Linked DNA regions of Homo sapiens. The protein of the gene in region 1 purifies or fractionates together with the protein of each later gene. This does not show direct contact. Each region holds a gene or a part of one and is shown on either strand. Other genes may lie near its edges.

What was found. The genes of interacting proteins can lie anywhere in the genome.
Region 2: the proteins of CCDC110 (region 1) and XDH purify together in Homo sapiens (affinity purification with mass spectrometry; one large-scale study listed by BioGRID and IntAct). This does not show direct contact.

The regions. Positions count from the first base shown.
Region 1 is NC_000004.12:185,454,734-185,458,233, forward strand, and holds part of CCDC110 (coiled-coil domain-containing protein 110), read right to left. Parts: coding exon 3,393-3,500; intron 3,083-3,392; coding exon of another isoform or gene 3,033-3,082; exon of another isoform or gene 3,009-3,032; intron 2,597-3,008; coding exon of another isoform or gene 2,463-2,596; exon of another isoform or gene 1,668-2,462; coding exon of another isoform or gene 1,603-1,667; exon of another isoform or gene 1,586-1,602; intron 1-1,585.
Region 2 is NC_000002.12:31,366,243-31,369,742, forward strand, and holds part of XDH (xanthine dehydrogenase/oxidase), read right to left. Parts: intron 2,419-3,500; coding exon 2,299-2,418; intron 1,816-2,298; coding exon 1,719-1,815; intron 753-1,718; coding exon 628-752; intron 1-627. UniProt on the Homo sapiens protein: Key enzyme in purine degradation. Catalyzes the oxidation of hypoxanthine to xanthine. Catalyzes the oxidation of xanthine to uric acid. Contributes to the generation of reactive oxygen species. Has also low oxidase activity towards aldehydes (in vitro).

The DNA.
Region 1 (3,500 bases):
AAGTGACCTAAAATGTCATCTTGTCTAAGCTTTGCTGTTGTTGTTAACAGATGGGGTCTCATTCTGTCACCCAGGCTGGAGTGCAGTGGCACAATTATAGCTCACTGCAGCCTCAAACTCCTGGGGTCAAGCGATCCTCCTACCTCAGCCTCCTGAGTAGCTGGGACTACAGGTATGTACCACCCCACCCAGCTAATTTTGTCTAAACTTCTTGATACTTAAAACTCTTTATAATGTTCGTACAAGGTGAATGCCCAGCCTCTGCCTAATATTCTAGTGTAATGGCAGCCTGTTCATTCATCATTCACTTAACAGATGTTGAGTGTCTGCTATATTCCAGGCATGGTTCTGGACACTGGGATTCAGCAGTAAACAAAATAGACAAAGGTAGGTTAAAAGTAAAAGGATGCACCTAACTTTTTAGTTATATTGTTTGTTTTATATTGTCAATGTTTTTTTAACACTAACACTCTATTTTGTAACCATAATTCAAACAGTTCTTTAATCTTAATTTTGTATTTAAATGGATATAGTGCTCACCATTAGTTATTTTCTTAATACTTTAGTTCTTTGATTTATATTTGATTTTCAGGATTTAGTAATCCATTTTCATGGTATATATTTATTATTTAACTATTCAGAGTTTCTCCTACTGATTCATCATTACAAAATAAATATAAAAGGATGCAAAAAGATATACTATGCAAATACCAATCTAAAGACAACTAGAGGGGCTATATCAATATCAGAGACTTTAGAACAAGGAATACCCCTAGGGATAATGAAGGTTATTTCATAATAATAAAGGTATCAGTTTACCAACTGGACATAATAGTGCTAAATGTGTATGCATACATAAAAGAGCTTTGGCCAGGCGCGGTGGCTTATGCCTGTAATCCCAGCACTTTGGGAGGCCGAGGCAGGTGGATCACCTGAGGTCAGGAGTTTGACTGAGTCTGGCCAACATGGTGAAACCCCGTCTTTACTAAAAATACAAAAATTAGCCGGGCATGGTAGTAGGCGCCTGTAATCTCAGCTACTCGGGAGGCTGAGGCAGGAGAATTGCTGGAACCCAGGAGGTGGAGGTTGCAGTGAGCTGAGATTGTTCCATTGCACTCCAGCCCGGGCTGACAACAGTGAGACTCCATCTCAAAAAAAAAATATTAATAATAAAAATTAAAAGAGCTTTAAAACACACTAAACAAATTTATAGAATGAACAAATCAACTTCTCTGTTCCTCTATCAGTAACTGTTAGAACAAGCAGACACAAGATCAGTACAGATATAGATTTGCTCAAACCTGTCAACCACGTTTACTCAGTTGACATTTATAGAACACTCCAGTTCACCTGAAACATCAACCAAGACAGACCTTATTCTGGGCAATAAAACAAGTCTCAATAAATTAAAAAAGATTATGTTCTCTGATCAAAACAGAATTAAATTAGAAATCAATAAAAGAAAAATAACTGAAAATCTCCAAACATTTAGAAATCAAGCAACTCACTTCCAATCCATTGGGTCAAAGAATAAATCACAAGTGAAAAAGAAAGTATTTTGAACTGAATGAAAATGAAAACATACCAGACTCTGTGATGCTATTAATGCAGGTACGAAACTAGGGAAGGAGCCAAGTAGCACCAGACGACCCAAAGGAATGAAATTACTAAATAGGAACAGAAATCAATGGAAGAAAAAAACAAAGCAGCAAGAAAAATCAATGAAATAATAAGCTGATTTTTTGAAAAGAAAAATAAAATTGGTAAAACTCTAGCAAGAATAATAAAGAAAAAAGAATCCCCAAATTACCAATGTCAGAAATTAAAGAGGGGACATCGCTACAAGTCCTTTGAACGTTAAAATGCTAATAAGGAATATTATGAACAACTTTGTGACAATACATTTGAGAACTTACATGAAATGTACAAATTCCTCAGAACATACAAAATTGTCAACTCTAACTCAAGAAATAGAAAATCTGAGTAGTTCTATATTAATAGAAATCATTTAGCAATGTAAAACCTTCCCATTTAGAAAAATCCAGGCCCTCTGGTGAATATTTACATATTATATATTTTACAAATATGTATGAGTATTACATATTTAAATATTTAAGGAAGGAATAATATTAATAATACCAATCCTACACAAATTCAGAAAATAGAGGAGGGGAAACACTTCCCAACAGGATTTTCCTGATGCCAAAGCCAGACAAAGACATTACAAGAAAATAATACAGACCAACATCCTTCTGAATACAGAAGCAGAAATCCTTAACAAAATATTACCAAATTGAATCCAGGAATGTATATTAAAAGAATAATACAACATCACCCAGTGGAGTTTATCCCAGGAATTCAAGGTTAGTGTTTCAAAATTAACATAATTTACCATATTAACAGATTAAAGGAGAAAAACCAGGATCACCTCCAATAAATGTAGAAAAAGCTTTGGACAGAATTCAACAAGGAATATTTGAATAGCAGTCTTGGAAGACAGAGTGTCTCTGGAGCACAGAACAGGTGTGCTTGCAACCTTGGAAGCTAGAGATTGTGTTTCCTCTGGAGCCAGGGCAGGCATGTGTATTGTTTCCACCTACAGGAAAGGGCAGGCATCTTACTATCCGTTATAATACTCGGGTTTCTAAGCTCACTCTCTCCTGTAATGCAATCCACTGTGTGATCCTCTTTACACTGCCTGTAGAAACTGGGGCTTGGACAACCAATGCAAACATGCTGATTCCCTGGCTCCTGCTATTGTAACAAACTCTCCTTAATCTCTCGCTCAGGAGTCTTGTGACTTCCACTAGAACCCACAAAACTGTGGCAGGCTAAAATATGAGCTTACTAGTTGGGTAAAATCTCAGATTCGCCACCGTTCTTGACAGTATAAAATATATACTTAATTCCAATTTCTAATTTTAAAAACTAGTCTAATCAATTACCAGGTTAATGTAATCACATAATTTAAAATTATTTTGTGGGGGGAAAAAGTACTTGGACAAAGGTTTTGAAACATTGATTTTAGCAGTTTATTTATATATCTTGGATGGAAGCAAATGATACAGTTTACTTGGAATTCCTAGGGAAAAAAAAAAGAATTCTTTTAAGGTGGGAGTGCTACTTATACTTTAAAATAATAATTAACTCCCTCTTGCTCACTGCCAAACTTGGTTTGTACACATACAATGCACATAATATAAACAAAATAATATATATTTTATCTAGAAAAAATTCCTAAATAATTTCACTGTATAATAAATTGGATACAAATTTTACAAAACAAAATTGTATTCATTTTAAAGTTTCCTCCTTATTTCTGTACTCTGTAGTGCCCAATAGGCTAAAAGAATCTTAAACACATCTCTACTAATCTACCAGGACTTGCGTACCTTTCAAATCCGAAGCCAAAGGCCTACTCTGAGGACTAGAAGTATCTTCGTGAGTATAGTTGTCAAAATGGAATTTCTCTCTTCTTGAAATGTAAGTTGTTTTTGAAG
Region 2 (3,500 bases), on another chromosome or scaffold:
TGCAGCTTTGTGGTTAGTGATGCTGGGGCCTGCCAGACTGAATTCAGCATTGGTTTTTAACCAGAGGGCAAGCAGTTGGTCACAGAATACTTTTAGAAACTTATTCTGTCTGACCAGGTGACCAGCGACTGGTAGATCATGAGAGTAGGACCAGCTGCCGAAAACACTGGCAACCGCTGTCACATTACAGGCAGTAGAGAAACAAAGAATATTTGAGCTGCTGTAGATAATTTAGTGGTCCCTGTGGCTATGACTTAATCCAACACCTTCATTTTACATATGAGGAAACTGAGGCAGGATATGACTTGACCGAGGCCATAGGCACTGAAATGATAACTGCCAACATGTACCAAACTCTAGTCTAAATATTAAAACTCATCTAATAATTATGACAACCCACCCAGGCCCCATTTTATAAATGAGAAAACTGAGGCTGAGAAAGGTTATGGAACAAGGTCAGTGATACCAGCTTGTTGGTGAAAGAGTCTGGCTCCAGGACTATGACACTCGAGTACCCTCTGGACCAGCCCACATCTCCCTCTTCCTATTTCCCACATGGCCCTCCTGGTCTGCTAGGAGCTCCCCGCTACCCTGACAGCCCCTTGAGCTGACCCAAAAGGCATCTACCTGGGTCTTCATGGTGTTCTGTGTAGACACAAAGAGCTCCATCTCCCCTGCCTCGCCTTTTGGAACAGCAATGGTGCAGTGAGTCTCCAGGTAGAAGTGCTCTTGGCCACCGATGTATATCTCCCCTGGGGAAGCAGTGAGATCCCTCACAGTGAGCCCAATGCTGCAGAAGGGGCCAGCTTGCCTAAGGAGAGAGTATACTCTGCCAAGTGGTCTGGGCAGGAAGCAATGGCTACCTGAGGGGTAACCTCAAGGTTTCCCACTTGGGGTGGAAAAGGATCCCAAAGTCTTAGCTATCTGGGAGCTGAGTGCTCCAGCCTCATCCCCACCCCCACAACAAAGAAAGAACGACACTGAAATGCATCCAGTCCAAAGTTCTCTTCTCACTGCAGCTTATGGAAATCAAGGATTTCAAAAACCATCATTGTAAAATTTTGGAAAAAGTAAAGCAGGGATTAATAGATGTGATTGAAACACTGAAAACCAGCGCATGTTCCCGAACCTAAGCTACCAGGCCTGGTGGAGAGTCGGCTTCATACCAGGCTTGTTGGAGAGTTGGCTTCATAGTGACTTTGCAAAGCACAACAGCCAATGTAAAAAACAGTTCCAAAAGAGGTAGTCAGCTGTGTTGTCCTGGGGTGGGAGCAATGGATTTGATTTCACAGTGTCAGAGACAGAGGTGGAGGGAGAGCAGGGCAAAGGGAAGAGGAGGGAGGATGCTAGTTGAAGATGGGTAAGGACTGCCTTCAGGTAGGGGGAGGATGAGAATTTATGCGGTTAGAGGCCTGGCAGACCTAAGGCTGTCAGGCATATGTGGCTGTTATCATCCCTAGTTGGTCTTCCGGATCAGAATACTCTAGAATCTCTCTAGAATCATTAGGTCCAGCCTAGAGACAGGAGAGTAGAGATTAAGATAACTGAAGCTCTTTCCCATCCAACTGTCTCCTATTTTGCTACAAACGTAAGAGGGAATCTTCTGTCAGGAAATGTCCAGAAATCACTTCCCTGCTTCAGGGTTCAATGCATATCTCTTGAATTTAATTTGCAAACCAGGGCCACCCCATTCCCACTGCGGCATGGAACAGCTCTACCTGACACAACATTATCTGCTTCGGAAAACCCCTTCTTTAGGTCCCCTTTCTCGATCTTCAGCTCAGGTCCATAAAAGGAGTTGTTCTTTATAGCATCCTGAGGATCACAAAGAAGTTTCAGAAATGTGGCTTTTAGCAGGGAGGGAAAGATAGGTTCTGATTAGGGAAAGAGAAGCTCTCTGAATTGTTGACTCTCTCTTTCCATAAATGAATCTCTATATGCTTCACATACAGACTTGAAGTAAGCTCTACTATAGCCCAGAGAATCATATTCCTCCATTTCCTCAGCTGTAGGTGGACAACCCTGGACCTTGAGGAAAAGCAAAGAATACCACAAGGACCAGATGGAGGTAAAATTTTGAGAAGGAGGAACTCAGTTTGGCTGTTGTTAGTGGACTGGGCATAAGATCATAAAGGGGAAGGTTTCATGGGACCCCAAATCCCAGGGTTGAAAGGGATTTAAAAACCCATCTAGTCAAATCCCTACCTGCTGCTCAAATCCCCTCCAGGGGATCCTAATACATGCACATCCAGGGACGGGGAGCTCACTCCTCTACACAGGCAGCCCATTCTCAGTTACCTCAATTGTGATAATGGCTGGTAGTTCTTCATAGGTGATTTTCACCCCTTGGGCAGCTCTCTGTGTGTGTTCCGGGGTGTCAGCAACCACAGCACCAATGATATGCCCAACACAAGTAACCTAGTAGCAGAGACAGACTGTTAAAGAACGCAACCAGGCTCATGGTGAAACAAATTATTTTTGGATTGTTCAAAAAGCCAAAAGAAGTCCCTGCCCTCACAATCAAAGCACACTTTAGGAATGCCCTAGGGCCTCTTAATTTCCTTATCCTACTGATTGAGGATCACTAGGATCAAGATGGCAAACACATTTCATCTCAAGGGCCAATTCTGAGTATTTAGTACTGGCAGACTATTGAGAAGCTGAACCAGATAGAATGTGGCAATTGATTCCTTGTTTGCCATGAGCAGAAAGGGGGATATGGCACCAGGAAGTGCATTTGTCAATTCGGATTCACTCCAACACCATTGGTCTTCCTATGGAGACTCAGAAGGCAAGGCCACATTTGGCTAGTTACTATTGACAGATCATGACTAACCTTAGGCCCTGACCCCCAGTTTTATTTTCTTTTCACCTCACCACTCTCTTTTATGTTCTATTTCCCAGATTTATACCAAAAGCTTCTCAAAGGCTGTAAAGGCTGTAAGCATCAATATAAGGCCTGTAAGACACGTACTTACAAGACATGATACTTTAAGTATCATGTCTTATACTTCAACTAATACCCAAAAGCAGTAGCTCTCAAATACTGGTTCTTAGACTTGATGACCCATAAAAATATTTTTAAAAATTTATATGATAATGATTGTTGTTTTATTTTGTTTAATAATTCAGTTTCATAAAAGCTTAATGGATCTCCTTCAGAGATAATTGTCATCCAACATCCCCGAAAAAGTAAACAACAAAAAATTTTTGTACAACACATCACTTTAGAAGATGAAGTTTCTGACAATAGGAACCAACAATTAGTATGCATGTCTCTGATAATTATCTCTTATGGCCCAAATAAGCTATTGACTCAGTTGGTTAGTGCAATGGTGGTTAAATCTGGCTGTTGGTTATTGCAATGGTGGTTAAATCTGGCTGACTTTCACTAGCCATAATGCTAGCACTGCTCTGAGAAGCTCTTAAAGTATGTAAAGCAATTTGTTCTTCTATGAAATGCTCTCCTCATGGAGTCTTTGTTCTCATATTTTTAGTTT